4 linked regions of the Homo sapiens genome follow. The protein of the gene in region 2 purifies or fractionates together with the protein of the main gene of each other region. This does not show direct contact. Each region holds a gene or a part of one and is shown on either strand. Other genes may lie near its edges.

Region 1 (3,500 bases), on a different chromosome or scaffold from region 2:
TCTAGAATTTCATGTAAGTGGAATGATGTAATACATACTCTTTTGTATCTGGCTTTTTCTCTTGGCATGTTTTTCAGGATTATCCATGTTTTTCTGTATTTAACGGGTTCTCATTTTATTGCTGAATAGAAGTCCTTGGTATTGATTTACTAGTTTGTTGACCATTCCACCTATTTACAGATACTTGGATTGTTTCCAGTTTGGGGCTGTTATTAATAAATAGCCTTCATTTGTTGAACATTCCTTTATTCAATGAACATTCATTTATTTTGAATTTTTGTGAACATCTTTTTTTTCTTGGTAAATACCTAGACATGGAACTTGTTGGGTTGTATGATACATGGATGTTTATAAGAAACTGCCAAACTGTTTTCCAGAGTGGTTGTCACATTTTACATATCCATCAGCAGTGTATGACAGTTCCAATTGCTCCACATCATCCTCAGCACTTGGTTATTTCAGTCTTTTAAATTTTAGCCCTTTTAGTGGGTATATAGTAGTATCATACTGGGATTTTGATTTGCATTTACCAGATGACTAATGGTGCTGAGAATTTGCTCTAGTGTATGTCTTCCTTTGTGAAGTATCTGTTGACATTTTTTGCTCATTAAAAAACAAACAAACAACAATGGGTGGGCCTGGCGCGGTGGCTCACGCCTGTAATCCCAGCACTTTGGGAGTCCGAGGCAGGCGGATCACGAGGTCAGGAGATCCAGACCATCCTGGCTAACACGGTGAAGCCCCATCTCTACTAAAAATACAAAAAATTAGCCGGGCGTGGTGGCGGATACCTGTAGTGCCAGCTACTCCGGCTGAGTTAGGATAATGGCGTGAACCCGGGAGGTGGAGCTCGCAGTGAGCCAAGATCGTGCCACTGCACTCCAGCCTGGGCGACAGAGCGAGACTCCGTCTCAAAAAAAAAAAAAAAAAAAAATGGGTTTGTCTTATTGAGTTGTAAGCATTTTTTAATACATTCTTTATACAACTCATTTGACACACAGAGATACATAAACACACACACACACTGCAATCTGAAGCTTGTTTTTTTTTTATTTTCCTAACTTTAAAAGAAGAGCTTTTAATTTTGATAAATTCATCTTACCAACTTTTTCTTATGATTTGTGCTTCTGTGTTCTAAGAACTCTTTGCTTAATGCAAAGTTGTGCAGATTTACTCTTAGGATTTTTCTATAAGTTTTCTAGTTTTGGCTTTCATGTCAAGGCACATTATCCATTTTGGGTTAGTTTTTGTATATGGTGTGTAGTAAGGGTCAAGGCTCATTTTCTTTTCAAATGTATATGTAGTTCTAGCACCATTTGTTGGGACTACTTTCCTTTCCCCATTGAATTAACTTTGTCAAAAGTCAGTTGATCATATATGTAAATCTGTTCCTGTACTTTTCTCTTGATCTTTATGCCTATAATTTTGCCAGTACTGAGTTATCATGGTTATTTTTACTTATAAGTATTGAAATTAGGTAATATGAATCCTTGAACTTTATTCTTTTTCAAAATTGCCTTGGCTATTCTAACTTTACCGTAAAGCTTTTAGAGGCTGCGTGTTGGTTTCTACAAAAAGACCTGAAGGGATTTTAATTTGGTTTGTGTCGAATGCATAGATCAATTTAGGAAGAATCGACATCTTGAGTCTTCCAATTCATGAATACAGGTTGTCTCCATTTATGTAGGTCTTCTTTCATTTCCTTTGTCAGCATTTTGTAGTTGCAGCATGAAGATGTTGCTCATTTTGTTGGATTTATATCTAAGTATTTAATAATTGATACCATTATAAGTGATAATTTTCTTAAATTTTAGTTTCCAGTTATTCACTGCTATATGTAAAAATACAGTTGGTTTTTGCATATGGACCTTGATGCTTGCAACCTTGCTAAATTCATTCATTTGAGTAAATTTTTTGTAGATTCTCTGGAATTGTCCTATGTAGACAATCATGTTATTTGCAAATATAGATCAGTTTTATTATTTTTGAATTTATATGTAACTCCTTCCACCTTTTCTTCTTCTTAGACTGGCTAAGACCTCCATTATGATGTTGAATAGCAGTGGTGAAAGCAGATATCCTTCTCTGTTCCTGATCTTAAGAAGAAAGCTTTGAATCTTTCATTATTGAGTGTGATAGAGTGGTGCTATAGCTTGAATGCTTATGTCCCTTCCAAAATTCATAGCATTGAAACATAATCCCCATTGTGAGGGGGATCTCAAGGAGGTGATTAGGTCATGAAGCTTCTGCCTTCATTAATGGATTCGTGTGCTTATAAAAGAGGTCCCAGAGAGCTCCTATCCCCTTATGCCGTATGAGAACACAGTGAAAAAACTGCAGTCTGTGAACCAGGAAGTGGCTCTCACCAAACGCTGAATCTACCAGCACCTTGATTTTGGACTTCCCAGCCTCCAGAACTGTGAAAAATAAATTTCTTTTATTTTTATTTCTATTTTTTTTTGACAGAGTCTTGCTCTGTCGGCTAGGCTGGAGTGCAGTGGCAGTCTCAGCTCGCTGCAACCTCGGTCTCCCAGGCTCAAGCAATTCTGCCTCAGCCTCCCGAGTAGCTGGGATTACAGGCGTATGTCACCATGCCTGGCTAATTTTTGTATTTTTAGTAGAGACGGGGTTTTACCATGTTGGCCAGGCTGGTCTCAAACTCCTTACCTCAGGTAATCCACCTGCCTTGGCCTCCCAAAGTGCTGGAATTACAGGTGTGAGCCACCGCGCCCAGCCGAGAAATAAATTTCTGTTGTTTATAAGCCACTTCAGTCTATGGGAGCTTGTTATAGGAGTCCTAATGGACTAAGACAAGTGGCCTTTTATCATATTGAGGATGTTCCCATTCTATTCTTGGATTGCTGAGAGGTTTTTGTTGTTGTTGTTGTTGTTGTTGTTGTTTTTGAGATGGAGTCTTGCTCTGTTGCCCAGGCTGGAGGGCAGTGGCACCATCTCAGCTCACTACAGCCTCCGCCTCCTGGGTTCAAGTGATTCTTCTGCCTCAGCCCCCTGAGTAGCTGGGATTACAGGTACACGCCACCAAGCCTGGCTAACTTTTTTGTATTTTTGTAGAAATGGGGTTTTACCATGTTGGCCAGGCTGGTCTTGAACTCCTCACCTCGTGATCTGCCCGCCTTGGCCCCCCAAAGTGTTGGGATTACAGGCATGAGCCACTGCGCCTGGCAGAGAGTTTTTTTTTTTTTTTTTTTTAAATCATGAGTGGATGTTGATTTTAGTCAGGTATTATTACTGTATTTATTGAGATGATCATATGGTTTGTTTCTGTGTTAATGTGATGAATTACGTTAACTTATTTGCGAATGTTGAATCATCTTCCATTCTGTGGTTAAACCTCACTTGGTGATGGTGTATTATCTACTATCATTTTTATAAATTGGTGAAATTTTTTTTTTTTTTGCATCTATGTTCATGAAAGATACTTTTTCATATAATGCTGGTTTCATAGAGTTGCAAAGTGTTTCTTATATTTTTGAAAAAGA
Region 2 (3,500 bases):
ATTGTTTTTATTTTTCAGGCCAGACATAGCTTCCTAATGAAAGAAAATGGAAATGTAATTCGACGACTCCTCAAAGGGGACTTTAGAGGACTTCATACAAAGCTGGGCATTAAGAAAACCACAATGCATGGCCGGGCGTGGTGGCTTACACCTGTAATCCCAGCACTTTGGGAGGCCGAGGTGGGTGGATCACCCGAGGTCAGGAGTTCGAGACCAGCCTGGCCAACATGGTGAAACCCCATCACTACTAAAAATATGTAAATTAGTCGGGCGTGGTGTCACGTGCCTGTAATCCTAGCTGCTCGGGAGGCTGAGGCAGGAGAATCACTTGAACTTGGGAGGTGGAGGTTGCAGTAAGCTGAGATTGTGCCACTGCACTCTAGCCTGAGCAACAAGAGCAAAACTCAGTCTCAAAAAAAAAAAAAAAAAAAAAAAAAAAAAAAAAAAAGGAAAACCACAATGCGTACTAAAGACCAGAAGACATTGTTCACAAAACAAAAGCACCCTCACCTGCCAATGAATATGCAGCGTGCAGGGGGTGTGGTGTGAGTGTTGGTGGGGCCCCACCTCTCGGAGATACTGCTGTGCTGCCTTCCTCACTGACTGTATACATAGTAACTGTCATATCTTTAATGCCATGGACTCACTGAGCCGCTCTGCAAGGACTATTGTAGACAGGCACTTCACACCATAAAGTGGCATTTTTTTCGTTCCCCAAACTGACATTTACAAGCGATAAGAAAAGAGACAATATCCATTTCATTGACTGATCATTTTCTAGAGTATGAAGAAATACACACCTGGGTGTCTGCAAGGATGTCATCATCTTTGGGTTTCATCTGAGAGCATCACTCAGCATCTCACACATAGATGTTACCATATTTTTAAATGAGCTTTCCTCATCCGGCTCCCTAAGCAAGCGCTGTTGGCCGGTGGGAGTGACTAAGTGCTCCACCTGTGGGTGTCCTTCTTAATGTGCTGCTTTTGTTCTGTATAAATTCACACCACCTCACTCCCAAAAGTACTTCCTGTGGCTCAGAAAAATATGTTCAATAAGATTTTGGATAGATAAATCCATACAAAAATAAAAAGAGGTATAGTTATAAAACAAGACTACAGAAAAAGTTGTGGCAGAAATTGCATGCAGGAAAATCCCACACCATTAGTAAAAGTAAGGTCAACTGTAAGTTCAGCTCAGGGCTTCCTAGCAGCCATGTTTAGCGAAGTGTGATTTTTTTTTTTAAACAAAAACAAGCAAAGATTTGGAAGAAAATGCTTTAGACCTAACTTTACAATTATTATAACATAAGATGTTCCAGGGTCCTTGAATAAATGCTGAGTTTTAGGGAAATGATTCCAAGGGACCAAGAATTGGTAGAAATAATTTCAAGGCAGAGAAGACTAATTCTACAGGCCGGGCGTGGTGGCTTATGCCTGTAATCCCACACTTTGGGAGGCTGAGGTGGGTGGATTGCCTGAGGTCAAGAGTTCAAGACCAGCCTGGCCAACATGGTGAAACCCTGTCTCTACTAAAAATACAAAAAATTACCCAGGCATGGTGGCGGGCGCCTGTAATCCCAGCTACTTGGGAGGCTGAGACAGGAGAATGGCTTGAACCCAGGAGGTGGAGATTGCGGTGAGCTGAGATCGTGCCATTGCACTCCAGCCTGGGCAACAAGAGCGAAACTTCATCTCAAAAAAAAAAAACAAAGACTAATTCTATAGTACCCATGACCCTGCAACCAGAGAAACTGCCTGTAGGGAGGCCAGAGTCCAAAGCAGCCACCTGTAACCTGAAAATGAAACGCAGACCCAGGCATCTGTGGGTCTTCATCAGCAGGATGACCATTCTAAGGCTAAAAGACAGGCCTTTAAATCTGATGCTATAATTCCATCCAAATACACAGTTAGGTTTCTACCATAGGGAAAGCTATTCTCTACTTTTTGAAGTATCTGTTTCAAAGATAACTTGCTCTCTGGTTCTCTTTTATCTAAAAGAGAGAATCAACATGCTAATTTAAAGGTTAACATCATTTTAATTCAAAAATTTTAGTCTCCATTCCATATTTAATGATGAAGACAAATCTGCTGGGTGCTGGGAGGGAATAAAAAGTAATGCACCCCATTGATTTCAGAGTATCTGATCACTTGGGTTATGCAAGCTGCTACTTACCCGCCATTAGCATGGGTAGTTAAGTGCTGATTAAACCTAAGTGGACTCAGTGAAAAAGATATTGGGAAAAATAATATGATATTGTGGCCTATGTTGAATGATGTTAGCTTGTGTTTCAGTAACAGAGTTGGGTAATACTGGACGTGTAGATGAAGCTTTAGCAGGGCTGGGCACGGTGGCTCATGCCTGTAATCCCAGCACTTTGGGAGGCTGAGGCGGGTGGATTACCTGAGGTCAGGAGTTCAAGACCAGCCTGGCCAACATGGGGAAACCCTGTCTCTACTAAGAATACAAAAATTAGCTGGGTGTGGTGGCGTGTGCCTGTAATCCCAGCTACTCAGGAGGCTGAGACAGGAGAATCGCTTGAACCCGGGAGGCGAAGGTTGCAGTGAGCCAAGATCGCGCCACTGCACTTCAGCCTGGGTGACAGCACAAGACTCCATCTCAAAAAAAAAAAAAAAAGGAAGAAGAAAAAGAAACTTAAGTGGGGTTCATACATAGCATGGCAGAGGGACACTGGAGAATAAAATGGCATGCAGAGAGGAACACGCGGGCCAGTGGATGAGGCTTCTAGACCTGGCAGTGAACTGGAGTCTATTTGCTTACACAAATTTAACCTTCTCTCCATGATGGAATACAAGTGTTTCTTGCCAAAACTCGCAGCCCCAGCTGCCCTAGATGAGGAGCACCGTGCTGGAAAAGTGCACAGGCTGATCACAGAGACAGGTAGGAAGCAATGGACTGTTAAAATGCATGTTCCGGGCTGGGGATGGTGGCTCACACCTGTGATCTCAGCACTTTGGGAGGCCGAGGCTGGGGAATCGCTTGAGCCCAGGATTTTGAGACTAGCCTAGGCAATATGGTGAGACCCTGCCCTTAAAAAAAAAAAAGAAAAGAAAAGAAAAGAAAAAAAGATTCATATTCCTGATCAGCTCTGAATGTGACTATTCAATGAAGACAGTAAAGTTACAGTGTAAGGCACACATGACCTTTGGCCTTGCTAAAGAAGAGTGGCTGAAGGTCTAGCAAATTAATGCTTGTCTTAGGTTACCTGTTGATTTAAAAACAACAACAACAAAAACCCATAAAAATAGTAAAATATAAAAACAAATTAGTGTTTTATAGACCCTGGGGAAAAGAATTTTCAGCAAAGTACAAAAATTTAAAGCATTCCTTTCTTTAATTTTGTAATTCTTTACTGTAGAACAGCTCAAAATATCAGTTCTGTTTTAAGTAACAGAATTGATAACTGAGCAGGGAAACGTAATTTGGATTGTAAAATTCTTGCTTTAATAAAAATTCTTTAAACAGTCAAAATAGAAAGAAA
Region 3 (3,500 bases), on a different chromosome or scaffold from region 2:
TTTTTAGTAGAGATGTTTTTGCCATGTTGACCAGGCTGGTCTTGAACTCCTGACCTCAGGTGATCTGCCTGCCAAAGTGTTGGGATTATAGGTGTTAGCCACTGTGCCCAGCTATATATTTGTTTCTGATTTTTTTTGTTGTTCTTTCTATGTGGGTTGCAAATATCTTCTATGTGGTTTTTCTTTTTAAAGAAGTTGTGCCTTGAATAGAAGCTCTTCATTTTAATGTGGTAAAACTTATCAATACTTTTCCTTATGGTTAGTGCTTTTTGTGTCTTGTTCTACTTAGTATTGATTTTTGTGTAGTAGAAGTAGGGGCGCAATTTCATTTTTTCTCCATACAGATGGCCAATTGCTATTGCTGTATTTATTGAAAAGCCCTTCCTTTGTGCACTGATTTGCTGTCCCACTGTCATATATCAAGTGCCCATAATATGTGTGAATGTGTTTCTTGGTTCTTCTGTTCTCTACTGTTTATCTGTTAGTATATCCCTGTGTGAACAGCATGTTTTCTCAGTTATCCCTTTATAATATGTCTTAATATCTGGTAAAGCAGGTCCTTCCATCTTGTCCTACAAGAGTGTGTTGGCCAGTTTTGGCACTTTACATTTCTTAGAATCATAGTATTAAAAAGCCTGCAGGAGTGTATTTGGATATTAAATTTATAAGCCAATATAGGGAGAATTAATATCATTACAACATGAAGTCTTCTGATTCATTAATTTAGGTCTTTTTTATTGCTTCGCAGTTAAGTTTTATATTTTTTTCCTCAAAGATTTTTCACATCATTGTAAAATTTATTCCTAGATACTTCATAATTTTATAATATTGTAGAAAATATGAGCCAGGCACAGTGGCTCACACCTGTCAGCTATATGGAAGGCTGAGGTGGGAGGATTGCTTCAGTCTAGGAGTTTGAGGCTGCAGTGAGTTATGATCCTGCCATTTCCCTCCAGCCTGGTCGACACGGCAAGACCCTATCTCTAAAATAAAAATAAATGGTTTTAAGTTTTGTTTTCTAATTGAATATAGGAATATGATTAACTTTTATATATTGTTTTTTTGTGATCTATCTGCTGAATTATCTTACATATCCTAATAATTTATCTGTAGATTTATTCTACATACCTGATTGTATTATGTGTGAAGAGAGATACTTTTTGTTTGTTTCTTTTCAATCCTTATATCTGTTATTTGTTTTTTCTTGCCTTACTGCATTGGATAGCACCCCGAGTATTATGTTGAATGGATGTGGTTGGTGGGTATTCTGGCCTTGTTCCTAGTCTAGCAGTAATTGATAACATTGCACAAATAAGTGATATGTTCTATGGTTTTTGAAAATAGATATGTTTTATCAGTTTAAAAAAATTCTAGTCCTGGTTTGCTAAGTTTTTCTGAATTTTGATTGGTTATTTAATATCAAATGCTTTTTTTGCATCTTTTGGGATGATCATGTGATTTTCTCTTTCACTTTTATGATGATGAATTACATTAATTGATTTACTTATTAAAGTTAATTTTTAAAATCAGTGATACATTCATATACCTCAAAAGCCTGTGTCCTTTTCACCTGATTCTTCTACCAGCTGTTGGTAACTACTTGTTTTTTCTTAGAAACAGGATCTTACTCTGTTGATCAGGCTGGAATGCAGTGGTGGGAGCATAGCTCACTGTAATCTCAAATTCCTGGGCTTAAGCAATCCTCCCACCTGAGCATCCTGAGTTGCTAGGACTACAGGTGTGCCACCATGCCTGGCTAACTATTTATTTTTTATTTTGTAGAGATGGGTGTCTTGCTATGTTGCCCAAGTTGGTCTTGAACTCCTAGCCTCAAGCAGTCCTCCCGCCTCAACCTCCTACAGCTGTGGGATTACAGGCTGTTCCTGGCCAATAACCATTTTTATTAGTTTTTTGGTTACCCTTCAGGTGTGTGTTTCTGCAAATATAGGTGTGTGCATATATATGGTCTTACTTTCATCTCTTCGTATTGTTGTATTTTATAATTAAAGCAGAAAGACTAGCATTTCTGGGATATCCTTGATCCAACTTGGTCATAATGAAGTAGCCTTATGTTTTTGGATTTGGCTTATTAATAATTTATGTAGTTTTTTTTCATTTATATTTATGGGAGAAATTGGCCTATCATTGTTCTTTTACTGTTCTTATGGGATTTTGCTATCAAAGTTTGGCTTCATAGTCTGAGGCAGAGTGTAGTGTTTCTTATATATTCTTTCTCTCTTTTAATGGTCTGGAAGTATTTGTGAAAGATTGAAATATTTCTTCCTATATTGATTGGTAGAACTGACCATGGAAGCCATCTATTCCTGGAGAGAGTGAAGGGGGAAGGGAGAGTTGGTTTATTGTTGGTGCTTTCTTTTGTTTTGTTTTTTGGTTTTACATTTTTTAACTGATCACCAACATTTTATTATTTTTAGTTTCAAACTTTTAAGTTCTGGGGTACATGTGCAGGATGTGCAGGTTTGTTACATAGGTAAACATGTGCCATGCTGGTTTGCTGCACAGATCATCCCATCACTTAGGTATTAAGCCCAGCATCCATTAGCTATTCTTTCTGATGCTCTCCTTCCTCCCACCCCCTATCCACTGACAGGCTCCAGTGTATGTTGTTCCCCACAATGTGTTCATATGTTCTATCATTCAGCTCCCACTTGTAAGTGAGAAGATGCAGCATTTGGTTTTCTGTTCCTGCATTAGTTTGCTGAGGATAATGGCTTCTGGCTCCATCCATGTCCCTGCAAAGGACATGATCGGATTCCTTTTTATGGCTGCATAGTATTCCATGGTATATGTACCACATTTTCTTTATCCAGTCTATCACTGATGGGCATTTAAATTGATTCAGTGTCTTAGCTATTGTGAATAGCACTGCAGTGAACATACACGTGCGTGTATCTGTGTAATAAAATAATCTATTTTCCTTTGGGTGTATACCCAGTAATGGGATTGCTAGGTATTATTGTTTTACATAGTATTTTTGACTATGGACTCAATTTCTTTAATAGTCATAGGTCTGTCTAGGTTGTCTATTTTTTCTTAGGTCAGTTTTGATAAGTTACATTTTCTCAGACGTTTGTCCATTTTATGTAAATTTTCAAATGTGCTAGTATAAATTTGTGAATCATAATTCTTTTTTTTTCATTCTGTAGCTGTCTTAGCTATTCCTTTAAGAACTGTAGGCATATTGATTGATAATCTGCCTCTGATAATTCTAGTATGTGAAGACTTTGTGGACCTCTTTTTGCTGCTGTTTTTAGTTTTTCATGTTTCATGTTTTTATTTCTTTTTGTGCTGGGTTCTGTGTAGCTGTGTAGCTTCTCATTGCCTTTTAAAAACTGCTTATGGGACTTTTCCAAATCTTGCATGAAGCTGCATACTTCAAGAGAGGATTCGAGTTTGATTCTGCTAAGGCCTGAGAGTACAACTTGTTTAGAATCCCCTTCTACTAAATTAATTTCTTGAGGTTTCTTGGACCAAACTTT
Region 4 (3,500 bases), on a different chromosome or scaffold from region 2:
ATCAGTTATGGGCACTGTGTGTGGAGTCTTGGGCTGCTTTCTGCCTGGAGGGAATATCCCGTCAAGGAATCATTAGGCAGATATACCAGGTATACAAGAGCTCTGTGCCAGCTGAGCATCCTGGTGCGGGGAAGTCTGAAACGGAGAGGAAAGTAGAGCCTGATGACATAAATCTGGGCAGGCTTCCTGGAGCAGGTGAGCTAGGGCAGGTTAGAAGACTCAGAGGACTGTGGGCTGGTGTCTGGGTGGGAAGGAACAGCCTGTGCAGCAGCTTTGAGACGAGAGCAGGAGGAACAGAAGTGGGTGATGACAAGCAGGCTTGCTGGTGAGAGCTAGTGAGAATAAGCAAGTGATGAGGCTGGAGGGTAGGTGGGCAGTCGGCTGAGGACATGGCTGAGATGGGGGTCTGCTTTCAGCCTTCCCGGCTTCAGCTGAGCCACCGCTGGTACAGTCAGCCACCGCAAGTAGGTACAACACAGATGCAGAATTTGTTCCCATGTCCCTTGCCTACTCCCACCCCACCCCAGAAACATGGGCTCCTGCCCCGTTACTGCTAGGGTAAGCATTTGCTTTTTATATCTAGTTGGGCTCCCCCTGCTATGTGGTTTTGTTTGTTTGTTTGGGACAGAGTCTCACTCTGTCACCCAGGCTGGAGTACAATGGCGCGATCTCGGCTCACTGCAACCTCTGCCTCCTGGGTTCAAGCAATTCTCCTGCCTCAGCCTCCTGAGTATCTGGGACCTCCTGAGTAGCTGAGATTACAGGCACCCACCACCACGCCCAACTAATTTTTGTATTTTTAGTAGAGACGGGGTTTCACCATGTTGGTCAGTCTGATCTCGAACTCCTGACCTCGTGATCCACCCGCCTCAGCCTCCCAAAGTTCTGGGACTACAGGCGTGAGCCACTGCGCCCGGCCCCCTGCTATGTTTTAAAGTCCGTTTATTCTTTGTGGAGACTGAATAGATTGTCATCCACATCTCAGTGTTTTCTGAACACCTACTATGTGTAAGGCATTGTAATAAATACAAATATGAATATGCCAGTAGCTCATGCCTGTAATCCCAGTGCTCTAGAAGGCTGAGATGGAGGATCACTTGAGGCCAGGAATTTGAGACCAGCCTGGACAACACAGCAAGACCCCATCTCTACACACAAACAAAAATTAGCCAGGCATAGTTGTGAGCACCTGTGGTCTCAGCTATTTGGGAGGTTGAGGTGGGAGGATCGCTTGAGCCCAGGAGTTCGAGGCTACAGTGAGCTATGATCGTGCCACTGCTCTCCAGTGTAGGCGACAGAGAGTCTGTCTCTTAAAAAAAAAAAAAAAAAGACTATCCCTTCTTGCCCTGTAAAGCCATTTCCTCCTTCTCCAGGCCCCAGCTTTCATTTTTTAGCTAAATAAAATTCATTCCCATGTGTATGTGCATTCAGGTGTGTATGGTATTTCTGGGCTTAGGGTGTGTGGGTGGAATGAGACACCAGCAAGTGTGTTTTAGTGCTTAGCTGTTTATAAGTGAGTGTGTTGCCTGGGGGCATAGCAGGCATTTGGGTGTAATGGTTGAGCCAAGTGGGTGATGAGTAGCTAGAGGCCCTAGGACCAGAGAAGAGACTGACTCAGTGGGGCTCTGGGGTCTCAGAGTGGAGAGCTGCCCAGGCCCTTCTATCTCTGCCTTCCGGTCCCCCACCCCGACTCACCCTGTCTCCAGCATGGGGCAGTGGGTGATGATGTCACTGGTTAACGTGGCTCAGCTGGATTTCCTGGGGTGGGGCCCCCCAGGCTACCCACAGCAGCCCAGAGAGTTGGGCGGGAAGAATGCTTTGTGTTGGATGTTGCCATGGGGATAGCAGGTCTGCGCGCCCAAGCAGCCATGGGGCTCAGTGGGAGGGGGACTAGGTGGCCCACTGACCCAGTTTACCCACTCCCCCCCACCCCCGCCAACTCCCTGCTGCTGTGGGGGAGTGGGGAACACAGCCATGGTTGCGATTATCGTGGTGTTGAGGTGTAGAGGCTGAGGGGGCAGGGGGATGATTTTTGTGGGTCTCAGGATGCTCTGGGCCCTGTAGAAAAGTATGAAAAAGACAACATAGGGTTCCCGCGCAGGCAGCACAGACTCTGGGGGAAGGGAGCAGGAGCGGTGGCTTGGGCAGGGAAAGGTGCACAAACATTAAGAGGTGTGCCGTGCATCAGCGACAGAAGGTTTTGGGAAAGGATGCAAAGAGAACTGCAAATCTCATCCCCTGAGCCCTGAAGGAGTGATTGGCCCACACGTGACATACCTGGCTCAGCACCCTTATGCCAGTTGGAAAGGAGAGCCTTTCTTGGTGGGTGGTGCAGGAATATGCAGGCTGAATTGCAGCCCCAGGCTGGGTCCTGACTGTGTCCCTCTCCACAGACGGCGTACACAGCGTGACCGCCCAGTGCGCGCTGCGTGTGACCATCATCACCGATGAGATGCTCACCCACAGCATCACGCTGCGCCTGGAGGACATGTCACCCGAGCGCTTCCTGTCACCACTGCTAGGCCTCTTCATCCAGGCGGTGGCCGCCACGCTGGCCACGCCACCGGACCACGTGGTGGTCTTCAACGTACAGCGGGACACCGACGCCCCCGGGGGCCACATCCTCAACGTGAGCCTGTCGGTGGGCCAGCCGCCAGGGCCCGGGGGCGGGCCGCCCTTCCTGCCCTCTGAGGACCTGCAGGAGCGCCTATACCTCAACCGCAGCCTGCTGACGGCCATCTCGGCACAGCGCGTGCTGCCCTTCGACGACAACATCTGCCTGCGGGAGCCCTGCGAGAACTACATGCGCTGCGTGTCGGTGCTGCGCTTCGACTCCTCCGCGCCCTTCATCGCCTCCTCCTCCGTGCTCTTCCGGCCCATCCACCCCGTCGGAGGGCTGCGCTGCCGCTGCCCGCCCGGCTTCACGGGTGACTACTGCGAGACCGAGGTGGACCTCTGCTACTCGCGGCCCTGTGGCCCCCACGGGCGCTGCCGCAGCCGCGAGGGCGGCTACACCTGCCTCTGTCGTGATGGCTACACGGGTGAGCCAAGGGAGGGGACTCATGGGCCAGCCCTGGAAGGCTGACTGTGTGGTGCAGGCACAAATCAGGACAAATGCTGGCGGCTGCCTCATTCTCTTCCCGAGTGAGGTGCAGCTACACTGAGAGGTCATAAATCCGGCCTGCTCCCTGACAGCACCCCACTGAGGAAGGCAGTGCAAGGAGTGCTTCTCCCTGCTGTGCACAGGACACACAGGCAGTGCCATTGTGGGCAGAGCTGGCTCCAGAGCCAGTCGGCCTGTGTTCGTGTATCAGCTTTGCCGCTAGTAGCTGTGTGACCTTGAACAAGTTACTTAACCTTTCTGGCCCTCGGTTATTTGAAATGGAGATAATGACCGTACTTAGGTCATAAGTTGGTTGTGAGGATTAATGTAATTAATTTGATACTTGGAAACAGCTGGTGGCATGGAAGGTGTTGGCCTTGATTTAAGGGAACGCTGA

The links. Proteins that work in one complex are often made in the same cells at the same time.
Region 1: the proteins of SSTR2 (region 2) and PJA2 purify together in Homo sapiens (co-immunoprecipitation; one large-scale study listed by IntAct). This does not show direct contact.
Region 3: the proteins of SSTR2 (region 2) and TRIM44 purify together in Homo sapiens (co-immunoprecipitation; one large-scale study listed by IntAct). This does not show direct contact.
Region 4: the proteins of SSTR2 (region 2) and CELSR2 purify together in Homo sapiens (co-immunoprecipitation; one large-scale study listed by IntAct). This does not show direct contact.

What each region holds. Positions count from the first base shown.
Region 1 is NC_000005.10:109,403,475-109,406,974, reverse strand, and holds part of PJA2 (E3 ubiquitin-protein ligase Praja-2), read left to right. Parts: intron 1-3,500.
Region 2 is NC_000017.11:73,171,510-73,175,009, forward strand, and holds part of SSTR2 (somatostatin receptor type 2), read left to right. Parts: 3' UTR 1-3,500.
Region 3 is NC_000011.10:35,665,775-35,669,274, forward strand, and holds part of TRIM44 (tripartite motif-containing protein 44), read left to right. Parts: intron 1-3,500. UniProt on the Homo sapiens protein: May play a role in the process of differentiation and maturation of neuronal cells. May regulate the activity of TRIM17. Is a negative regulator of PAX6 expression.
Region 4 is NC_000001.11:109,256,039-109,259,538, forward strand, and holds part of CELSR2 (cadherin EGF LAG seven-pass G-type receptor 2 precursor), read left to right. Parts: intron 1-2,393; coding exon 2,394-3,041; intron 3,042-3,500. UniProt on the Homo sapiens protein: Receptor that may have an important role in cell/cell signaling during nervous system formation.